Linked DNA regions of Homo sapiens: region 2 is linked to region 1. Evidence: fine-mapped QTL for protein levels in blood plasma. A gene starts in region 1. The other region holds a variant in brackets. All regions are shown on one strand. Distances are between the middles of the regions. Region 1 holds the start of CALCB (calcitonin related polypeptide beta). Region 2 overlaps INSC (INSC spindle orientation adaptor protein).

Evidence for each region. PIP is the posterior inclusion probability: the model's chance that the variant is causal. The UK Biobank Pharma Proteomics Project read protein levels with antibody pairs (Olink). The fine-mapping took linkage between variants from a reference panel, not from the people measured, so its PIPs are less certain.
Region 2: its variant is fine-mapped to the plasma level of the CALCB protein (UK Biobank, PIP 0.97).

Annotation. Positions count from the first base shown.
Region 1 is chr11:15,071,102-15,076,470 of GRCh38, forward strand. It overlaps CALCB (calcitonin related polypeptide beta), which reads left to right and starts at 2,492. Exons shown (of 5, transcript NM_000728.4): 1 at 2,492-2,562; 2 at 3,609-3,703; 3 at 3,960-4,097. The coding sequence starts at 3,618. RefSeq lists an enhancer at 3,394-3,895 and a silencer at 3,938-3,987.
Region 2 is chr11:15,155,382-15,160,750 of GRCh38, forward strand. The region is part of intron 2 of INSC (INSC spindle orientation adaptor protein); the gene reads left to right. Among named protein-coding and RNA genes, the nearest start is that of INSC, 43 kb to the left of the region's middle. The variant A/G (reference allele first, on the strand shown) is at 2,354.

The sequences.
Region 1 (5,369 bases):
CCCTCATTGTTTCCAAAAGCGAGCCCACCATCTAAAAATCTAAACAGTTGAACTCATGGACCTAGAGAGTAGAGATGGTTATCAGAGGCTGAGAAGGGTAATGGGTGGTGATGGTGGAGATGGGAATGGTTAAAGGGTACAAAAAAAATTGAATGAATAAGACCTACCATTTGCTAGCACAACAGGGTGACTATAGTCAATAATAACTTAATTGTACATTTAAAAATAACTAAAACAGTGTAATTGGATTGTTTGTAACACAAAGGATACATGCTTGAGGGGACAAATACCCTATTCTCCATGATGTGATTATTACATTGTATGCTTGTATCAAAACATCTCATGAACCCCATAAATGTATACACCTAGTATGAACTTACACAAATTAAAAATTAAAAAACAAAGCAGAACCAAAAACACAAAAGCGCATCCAACAGTCTAGACGTAGAGAACCTTCGCATACATAGAAATACTCCTTAGAGAGCTGCAGTTCCTGGTGTGGTACTACAAAGGTCCTGGAAGTCCTCCTGCCTTACTTCGAGTCCGCCACAGGCCGGAGCTACTTCTAGAACAGTTCTGACTGCCTTCCCAGGGGAGGGGGCGACTGCAGGTCACCCTGCCTCAGTGCACGCTGCGCATCTGAGTTGCAGGCCGGGCGGCAGTCACCCGAGTCAGCGGTCCCGATTCTTCGTGGGTGTTACCTGGAGTTTCCATTGCACGGGTGCTGGAGGCCAACCCGCCCTAGTCCCACCAGCTGGGTCCTGCCACAAGAAAAGGACCCAGAGGGCCTAGACAGATATCCCCTGAACTTTTTTCTGACCCGCAGAAACAGTGAGCATCACCTGCAGGGGTTCCGCCAGCCTCTGGCTTTGCTTCCTGCCCGGCAGCCTCCAGCAAGTTTTCCCGAATGCTCTCCAGGAGTGCAGTGGGCGCCGGCGGACTTATTTAGGGTCGCTGCTGCCAAGCGTCAGAGAGCGAACCGGAGGCCCGGGGCTGGGGGCTGTGGTGAGAGGCGCCCCTTTCTTTCTTGCCATCGCCCCTACCCCCAGCTCCTTCCTAGCCTATTCTGCCAAAGCTGGGATCTTCTCCTGGAACCCGGGAGCAAGAAGAGCTGGCAGTGCCGACTCCCAGAACCCGGCTTTCCTTCAGAAAAGATGGATAGGCCGAGTTTGTGTGCGTGGACGTGCATGTGTCGGTGTGCATGTTTAGGGGACAGTATGTACCCCCAATTGCATAAAACACGCCTGTTTTTGGAAACAGAAACACACGGGGTTGCTTTCGGGTATGGGTGTGGTTAGTTTGGGTTCCTGCGCACGCTCCCTTTTCGGAGCAGCTGGTGAGGGCGCATCTGTTCCAGTGAGTGCTGGCTGTCTGATGGACTGTCTGTGAATGCAGAAGGCAGAGCGTGTGGTGGGGGTCCTGCCATGTGAGTGATGATGCGCGCACTGGCTGGTCTGTAGTCGCGAGTGGAACTTGTGTGAAAATTCTCAGGCTGACTCTCGCGCTGCAGCACCTGCTCCCCTCCGTGGGTGGCAGCTGGACCCCAGCGCGCTCAGCTCTCAGGCGCTTCAGCGAAGTGGGGTAGGGGTGTGGAACGAGAGAGATAGAGACCCGGGCATAGACCATCTCCGCCAGGCAGCTTGGCAAACAGGTGGCAGAGTTGCAGGGCAGCTGTGTAAGCCAACTTCGGCGCAGCAGTGGAGGGTCCTGGCTTGGCGTGGGGGATGCTGGACCCGCGGTCGAGGATTTGGGGATATAGGGGAAGAGGGAGGAGGTGGATGCTGAGCCTTGTATGCAGGCTATGTCAGTTTAGCCCTCTCCCCAACCTCTCTTCGGCTCCTGCCCGTCCCAGAGGAGTGAGGTGGAGAAGGGCTGGCTGCCAGACTGGCACCAAAACAGCCTTCTTTGGGTGCCCAGGTTGCCAGGGCTCGAGGGGTCGGAGGATATCCAGGGAAGCACCCCAGGTGGTCCAAAAAGATCAAATTTTGAGGACCCCTCCCTCCCCTTTTCCCTCCCCCCCCCTCCTTCCCTGCCGTGGGCTCTTTCAGCTGTGGTCCCTTTAGAACCCAGGACTACTACTGCTCAACCTCGCTGGGGGTTCGGGTGGCTGGATTCGGGTCCCTCACTGGCGTGACAGGAGGGAGTGCGAGGCAGGAATTTAGGAGCCAAGGAGGTGAGAGCAGCTCTGGCCCCTCACTGTAGGTGACGCCAAACTCTCCTCGACTTGCCCCGACTCTTAGTTGAAAAATCTCTGTCCTCTCCCAGGCTCTCCAGCTTCCCAAGCAATGACCTCAATGAAAAAAATGACAGCGGGGCGGACTGCCCCCGCTCCAGAGTACCAGTGCCGGCAGTGCGAGCTATGACGCAATCGGAGCTCGGTCGGTCCTTTGATTGGCTAGTCCTGGCCACTTTGGATTGGCCGCGCGGGCTGGTGGGGACCCCCCCCCTCCAGCTATCTCTGTAATAAGAGCGGGGTCTCCGCGGGGAAGGCGCCCACAGCAGGTGTGGTGTTCATCCCGGGTCGACCGGCCGCTCGCGCTGCCCTGAAACTCTAGTCGCCAGGTGAGGAACTTCCCATTCCCCATTCCGCTCACTCGAATAACCTGCTTCTTCGACTAGTTCATCCAGTTTGCTCCATCTGCCTGTCTGCCTCTCCGCCGCCATCTGGTCCTACCTTACAGCGGTGGTCCTAGCTCTCTTCCAGGCCCCGTAGAAGGCGAGCGGTTAGGGTTGTCCTGGCAGTTTCTCCTACCAGTGCGAGAGGAGCCCAAGCATCCCCATGGCTCAGCGTGGGCGCTGGAAGCGCAGCGAGCGGAGGTAGGCGGGTCTGCAGCCCTGGCGTTGGGGCCTGGCTGAGCGCAGGATTCTGCAGAGTTGGGTCCGGGAGCGCCCTGCGCCGTCTTTGTCCTTCGGGAGCATGTTTCGTTCCCGGGAGGTCGGAACCCTGAGCTTTCCTCTGAGGCGCCTCCCTGGTGAGCCTTCCCGGGATTCCGGTCCGGATCTAAGGCAGTGTTGTTAGCGGACTAGAACCCTGGGCGCTCACCTCGCGGAGCTGCTGCTCAGCATCTGCTGCTAAAACGCGCTCCGGCAGAGGGCTGGCTTTGCGGGCGAGTCCTGAGACACCCGTAACTGGCACGTTAAAAATTTTTCCCAGTTCCAAGACTGAGAAATGAGCGCTCCTTTCCAATCCACCCTTCCCACCTTCCCCTCGCATGCGTTGGCGCGAAGCCCAGCAGAGGAGAAGGCGAGAAGGGGAGAGCAGGTCTACAGCAAGGTGCGTCCACGCCTGGTTTAGGCATAAATCAGGGCAGAAGTGTCTGTTTGTGTGCACGGGCGCGTGTGGCTTCTCCCTGGCCTTCAACAAAACAGAACCAAAATTCATCCTTTCTCTCCACCCTTCCCCTAGGACACCTTTTTCCGCTCTATCAAGCCATTCACTCACTGCAATGTGTCTCTTGAGATTCACAGCAGCCCTTCCTGCAAATGAAGGGAACAGAGGCTCAGGCAGCTGAAGTAACGTGCCTAAGGTCACATGGCAGTTGTGGCAGAGGCAGGACTGGAACCTAGATCTGTGCTGGTGCAGTAGTAACGTCATCCTTCCTTTACAGAGAGGCGGCATGGGTTTCCGGAAGTTCTCCCCCTTCCTGGCTCTCAGTATCTTGGTCCTGTACCAGGCGGGCAGCCTCCAGGCGGCGCCATTCAGGTGAGACAGCCTGGAGCCAGAGGCGCCTTCTGCTCCCACTGCCCCTAGGACCAGACAGCTCTGTGCCTCTGAAGTCACGCGTGGCTCCTGGTGAATCAGTGCCCACAGGTGGACCCTGGCCTCATGCCCGTCCCCTGGGAGTCGCGGTGGCCACATCCCCAGGGGAAGAAGCAGAGACCAGGAAGCCTGGCTGCCTATCCTGGGGAGGGTCAGTCAGGGGCTCACAGCCTGCAAGGAGTTTGCTTCCCTTCCACAGGTCTGCCCTGGAGAGCAGCCCAGACCCGGCCACACTCAGTAAAGAGGACGCGCGCCTCCTGCTGGCTGCACTGGTGCAGGACTATGTGCAGATGAAGGCCAGTGAGCTGAAGCAGGAGCAGGAGACACAGGGCTCCAGGTGAGGTTCCCCAAGCGCCCAGCACAGGGACTCCTCTCCCCGCAGCATACACAGGAAGGTGGATCCCAAGAGGCAGGAGAGAACACACTGGCAAGGGGTCCAGCAAGCTGATTTGTCCAGCAGGCTCCCTTTCTCAAGTTCCAAGGGAGACAGAGGTCCCAGTGCACCTGGAGGGACTGTGTGTGGTTAGACACAATAAAAAGCTCCGTTTCTGAAAGCTGTTAGAACATAGATGTAGAAGCTTTTTCTAGACATAGAAAAAACTCAATTTGTGAAAACTGATAGAAAATGAAATGGGGAGGTGTGGAATCGTTCACTGTGGAAATTGCTCTTGCAGTACTGGGAGATCTCCTAGCATTGGATGAGTTAAGACTGGTAAGGGTGAAGTCAGGAATAGACCCAATATCTCAGAAAGTTTTAGAAATTTCACATGTGCATGCCATTCTTTCATACCTGCAAGAAGCCTTCATTTCACATTTGCAAGGTGAAGATGAAGCCCTTGCAGGGGGTGGGGACAGAGCAGTGTCTGAGGTAGGTTTGAGCCTTTAGATGTGCAAGCTCTGTGGAGATGTGCATGTTGTCATGAGGCCAGGGAGAGCACCGTTTCCCAGACCCACATCCTTGTGCATGTTGAGCCTGAGCAGAGACCAACCCCTGGCCTGCTCCCAGCACTGCTGGGCAGAGGCATGTGTCACACCTACATTCACCCCGAGAACCTCTCTGTTGAGCATGAAGGGCTGAACATCATGGGAATACCAGAAAAGATCATCCTTCCTCATTCAGCCCTTCTCTACACTGCCCTGGCCCACTGACCCTCTCACCTCTCCTAATGGAGTGTGTGTGAGCTGCCCTCCTGCCTGCCCCACCTGCTCCCACTCGACATGTCCCCTGCCTGGTCCAACCTTCTGAGTGACTGCCCATGGGGACAGTCCCTAGTGCATGGTACTGTCTGGCATGTCCTTCCCTTGCAGCTTGAGCAGTCCTAGATTTAAGTAGCGTATAGTAATCTGAGTACCTGCTTGCAGGGCACATACTTGCAGTACCTGAAAAACTTTCATATGTTCCCTGGCATCAACTTCGGGCCTGAAATTCCTGGCAAGAATAGGGACATAGTCAACAGCTTGCAGAGGGACCACTACCCGACTCCAGGGTCCCCCAGATGGCAGCTGAACTTCTCTCAACTCTCCTGATTCCCCTTCTTGCTCCACTTTATGAACCTGATGCATGTGGATTCCTCTCTGATTTGTCTTCATGCTGGTATTGGTATTTTTG
Region 2 (5,369 bases), 84 kb after region 1:
CCTCTGTGTTAACTTCAAAATGCCATTTGCAGCACAGTGATCCATAATGGTTTGTTTACAATTATTTAGTAAATCTTTATAGAGTGCCTATGAAGTACTGGGTGCTGTTGTAGGTAGAGGGAGTATGTCACTGTGCAATAAACGATCCTGCCCTCATGCGGACCATATTCTCACATCTCTCCTCCGTAATCCTAGCACACAGGCCCAGTGCCTGGCCCATTTGGGGTGCTTAGTACGTTTTGGAGGTCACTTCCAAGTGTTTCAGGTATAGTAAATTGTTCCTTTACAGAGAACTCCCCACTTCACACAGAAGGTAGACTAAAGTAAGGCAGAGAAATCCAAATTCCAGAATTTGAAGACTTTTAAAGTTCCATTCTAAATGAAAAGAAATTAAAATGAGCCAAGAAAAGAATAGGCATAGATTTCCACAAACTATTCACCCTAGAGTTTTGGGGACACTGGACACCAGATCAGCAGGATAAGCTGGGAATAAGGAACTGGTACCAGTAGATGGAGGCCAGGTACAGATCTTCTGAGCTGGGAAAATTGTTCTCTTTGGCCTCTGAGGGGTCAGGCACAGTGACCTTCTCCAAGTGGTAGGCTTTGGGGAATGAAGGAGGCGGTCCACAAGGCAAGGGCAGAGGCAGGGCAAGGCCACTGAGGGAATGAGGAGACCTCTAGGCAGTCAGGGTCCCATGAGGATATCTCCCCACTGTATCACTACTTACATGGTCTTCTGGGCTTCCCTGCTGCTGCTACAAATCCATCAGAGGTCTGTGATGTTGAGGCCAGGGTCAGAAGTTCTGTCCTGAATGTTGAAAACATGCACCCCAATTTTCCTCAGAAAGAAACCAGACAAGGGTTTGAAAAAAGACCAGACACTCCATCGTCTTTATATGATCATAAACTATAAAAAGGCAACTGTATGTCACCTAAGGGCAGTCTTGCATAGCAGAAAGAGCTCCAGCTTTGGATTTGAGGGTTTCAGTATTAGCTAAATTGCTGAAAACCATCAAAGAGCACAGCATAATAATTAAGAACAAGGCTCTGGTCTCACATTGCCTGGATTTTTGTTTCCACTTATTCATTGTGTGATGTTGGCCAAGTCACCCAGCCTACCAAATCTCAGTTCTGGGAATCTCATAGGATTGTTTTGAGGGTTAATTAAGCCATTAAGATTGAATCAAGCATTTAGCACACTGCCGAGAATGTAATAAGTACCCAATCAATTTTAGCTTTATTGCCACTATTAACAATGAGGTCTTAGACAAGTTATGTAATGCCGCTAGGCCTCAGTTTCTCCATCTGTAGAATGGGGATGGCAATCTCCAATCATCAAACCACAGTGAGGCCTGGAGCAGAAGGTTCTTGGTACATCGAAGATGCACTATAGGTGGCAATCCTCCCTTTTTGTTATGTGGGTTAATTCCTTCTGACTTTGGAATACCCCTGAGGAAATATAGTAGGAAGAACACTGTTTCATACTGCAATTTCTTGGTATGAGACTTTGCTACTCCCTTCTCCCACCCCAATTCCACCCTGGATAATTCCAGCTTAGAAAAAACTTACCTGGCCTATAACCTGGTATGTGGAGATGATTGTAGTTGCATTTTGCTTTGTGTTTGAGTCTGCCAGACTTCAGAAAGCCCAAATTTTAGGACTTGGTCCCCTCATTCCAGATGTTCAGGACAGCCTCCATCAGAATGCAATGAAAAGGGCTACTTGAGGAATAGGCAACTTCTGGGAACTGGGTAGGACTCCTGGGAGCCACGTTCACTGTCTTGGATGCCCTTCTTGCTCTCCAGGCAAGGGGACAATCTTAATAGCATCAACTTCAGATTTCAGTTCACTGTGGAGACTAAGGAAATCAAACCCAAGTCCTGGCCCCTGGCCTCTCCAGCTCCTTGGCCAGGGACCTTACAAGCTCCTGACTCTGGTGGTTTTCCACCATGAAGGGAATGTGACTCATTGCCAGTCCATCTGCCTTTACCTCAATTTTCAATTCCCGTCCTCTGTGTGAGTAATAGGATCAGTTGTTCGTACTTGCAAAGGAAGGATTTCATGCATGGTGAGATGGCAGCTCGAAGTTTATGGCTGAGGACAATTGACCCACTGGGAGTTGGAAGGGGCAGGGGCAGCAGGCAGCCCCCACCACACAGCCAGAACTGCTCTGTGTAATCAGACTTTTCATAGTGGGGTCAAGCAGCAAATCCAGTAGGAGAGGTGGAGCCCAGAGAGTCAGCGAGCTAATGACAGAGAGTCAGGCAAGCTATGCAATTATGGGATGTTCAGCACTAACACAGTCCAAACCTTAATGAGCCACAGTCCCTAGACTCCCAAAATTGAGAAGGGC[A/G]CTTATTATGTGGCGGCACCGTGACTGTGGCTGGTATTAGATGGGCTTGTGGTGGGGCCATGTGGGATTCACCAGGTCCAGTCTCCTTCCTGAGAAAGCTGGGGCCCCCTTCGATGGGCCCCTCTGCAAGGCCTGACCCCCACTTCTGCTGTGGCCCTGTGCTCTCCACTTGTCAGAGGCCACACCCTGTAATCAAACCAAATGAAAACAGTTCCTCCCTGGATGTGTTTCCTATCTCAGCGAGGGCAGCAGCTTCAGGAGAAACCAGGGGAGTCAACTTCGATTCTTTCCTTTTCTTCACACTCATATCCTATCCTGTCCCTCCCAGATCTTCCTATCCCATGCCATTGCCTTAGTTCAGGCTTCTGTCTTTCTTCTCTTTCTGTTTTATAACTATCATTTCCCAACAGGCTACTCTCCTGCCTAGGATTTAACCTGGCTGTGATTAATTTTTTACTGATTCTTTGCACAATTGTTGTCACTTCCCTGCTCTAAAATGCTTTTCGTGGCTCCAAGTTGTCTTTGGGATTAAATCTACATCCCTGATCATGGCATTCGAGATCTTTGATCAACTAGTCCCTGTTTCTCTCTTCAGACCCGTTCCTGGCCCCACCCTCAGAGGCCCCTGATGTTATAGTCTAGTGAAACTTCTTGCCATATGACTTTTTGACCATATGCCTCTGGGCCTTTGTACATGGTGTCTCCCCTATGTGGAAGTCTTTTTGCCTTTGTCATCCTGGCAACTCCTCTCCTCTAAGAACTAGGGCAAATGTCACTTCCTTTGTGTAAATATTCCCAGGCGAAGTCAGGCCCTCTGTCTTCTGTGATCGTAGTCTATCCTGCTCACATCTTCTTGGTAGTGTGGTGTTTAGGTGATAGAAGCTGAGACTCTGAACTCTAGAGGCCTGGGTTTGAGTAATGGCTCCATTATTTACTCACCATGTGACCTCTCCAAACAAAAGTCTCCTCATCTGTAAACGGGGGTAATAATACTACTTCCCTCACATGGCTGTGGGCAGGCTTAAAGGAGATAATATATAGAGAGGGCTTGGACACTGCCTGACTCCTTGCTGGAACTCAACACTTCAACTGCTCTTATAATTATAACCAGATGAATTGTTGGTGGTTTTTTTTTTTTTTTTTTTTTGCCTGTTTGGGTCTTGGCTGAGCTCTATGAAGGCTGGAATTTTCTCCTGTTCAACTTTGTAGCCTCAGCTCCTAGAACAGGGCTTGTTCTGAGCAGGCCCATGGAGAACACCAGGAGACTAGGTCTCCAGGCCTGGCCCCAGTGTGCACTGGCTGTAGGACTTGAGACAGGCAACTTCTCCTGGCCTCTTGCACCTGGGGGCCCGTTTGGAGGGCAGAGCTGCCAGTGCAGCCCCAGGTGAAGGATCTTTTGTCCCTGGGTCTGCCTACAACTGAAAATAGAGAATCCTCCTTAGGAGCCTGAGGCTTGGGAGTGGAGCCAGGGCATGGTGGAGGCAAGGTACCCAAGTGATGGCTGGAGGCTGATGGAGAGTTCTGGAGCCTTGTAGATGGTGGAGAGACTGGCTCTTGGAAACCCTCTAGTGGTGATTTCTATACCCTCACCTGCATTTCACAGAAGCATGCAGAGGTATCAGGATGGTAATGGGCACATTACGTCTGTGAATTATCCTAAATGTCCACTTTGGCAAATGAAAATATTCTCTTTAAAGTAGGGAGAAGAACAGAATAGAAAAAACAAAGCTAAACCATTTGTAGTCTATACATCAAATCCCATGTTACTGCCATGAAAATTCATGACAAACAATGGGAATAGCTGGATGTGTGTGTAAGAATGCATTTAAAATTTTTACCTGACAGTACTGCACATGACATTGGAACAGAGCACAGCCTAAAGCAGTTTAACATAACACTTAAGAACATACAGTCTAGACACTGATGAGCTGGGTTCAGAGCCAAACTTTGCCACTTGTGATCTGTGTGATCTCAGATATGTTATTTGGCCTTGCTAAGCTTCAGTTTCCTCATCTGTAAAAGTAAAATCATAAGAGTACCCTCCTCACAGGGTCATTGTGAGAATCAACTGAGATAATACATGTGAATCAATCCACATGATAATTGGCATAGGGCCCGTCCTCAATTAGTGCTATTATAATGATTATGGATTTTATCCCCCTGACCCTCACAACCCGATGAGACAGGACAGCAGCATAGGTTATTATTATTCCCACTTGAAAAATGTTTAAATGTAATTAAGTTCCATACATATACACCAGCTGCATCATTGGTGTGTCAGGTCCATTGCCTTGCAGATACTGTAGCATGTAGCATGGTGGCTTGTAGGTAGGACAAGACAGACACAAGATCTGCCCTGCATCATCTAGGGGGTAAGGCAGACATTTAAAAGTTGTTAAACAATTGAGACCAGTATAGATCAGAGGAGAGACAGAGTGCTTACAGACGTGTGGGGCACATGGGACATAAATTTGTTGAGGAGTCACAAAGGACTCCTTCAGAAGAGAGATCAAGGTCAAGACCTCAATGATGTGTAGAAGCCAGCAAGGTGAAGAGGAAGTGGGAGAGAGGGACCAGCATGTGCAAAGCCTGGGAGGCTGGAAGTCACAGTAGCAGGACTGAAATAACTCAGGGCTGGGACAATGGTTGGAAATAAGGGGGCAATGACCAGATCAGGAAACTGAGGCTCAGAGATGACAAGTGTCATGTGTAGGGGCACACAGCTATCAAGAGGAGGGAGTGGGAGGAGGGCACAGGTGATGGCTCCTAATCAGGTGTTCTTGTGGCTTATATCACCATAATGACTCTCATGCTGGCAATACAGATACACACACATACCATTTTTAGAGGTTAAAAAATAAGTCATTCATGAGTTAATGAAAGATCATAGAGTGTTAACAATGTCTTCTCTCAATCAGAGGGCATCTACAATGCTGGAGTTTGACAGTTAACAAGATGGGGCTCTGAGTCATTGAAGAGAAGGCAGCTGTCAGATGTACACATTGGCTCATAAGAG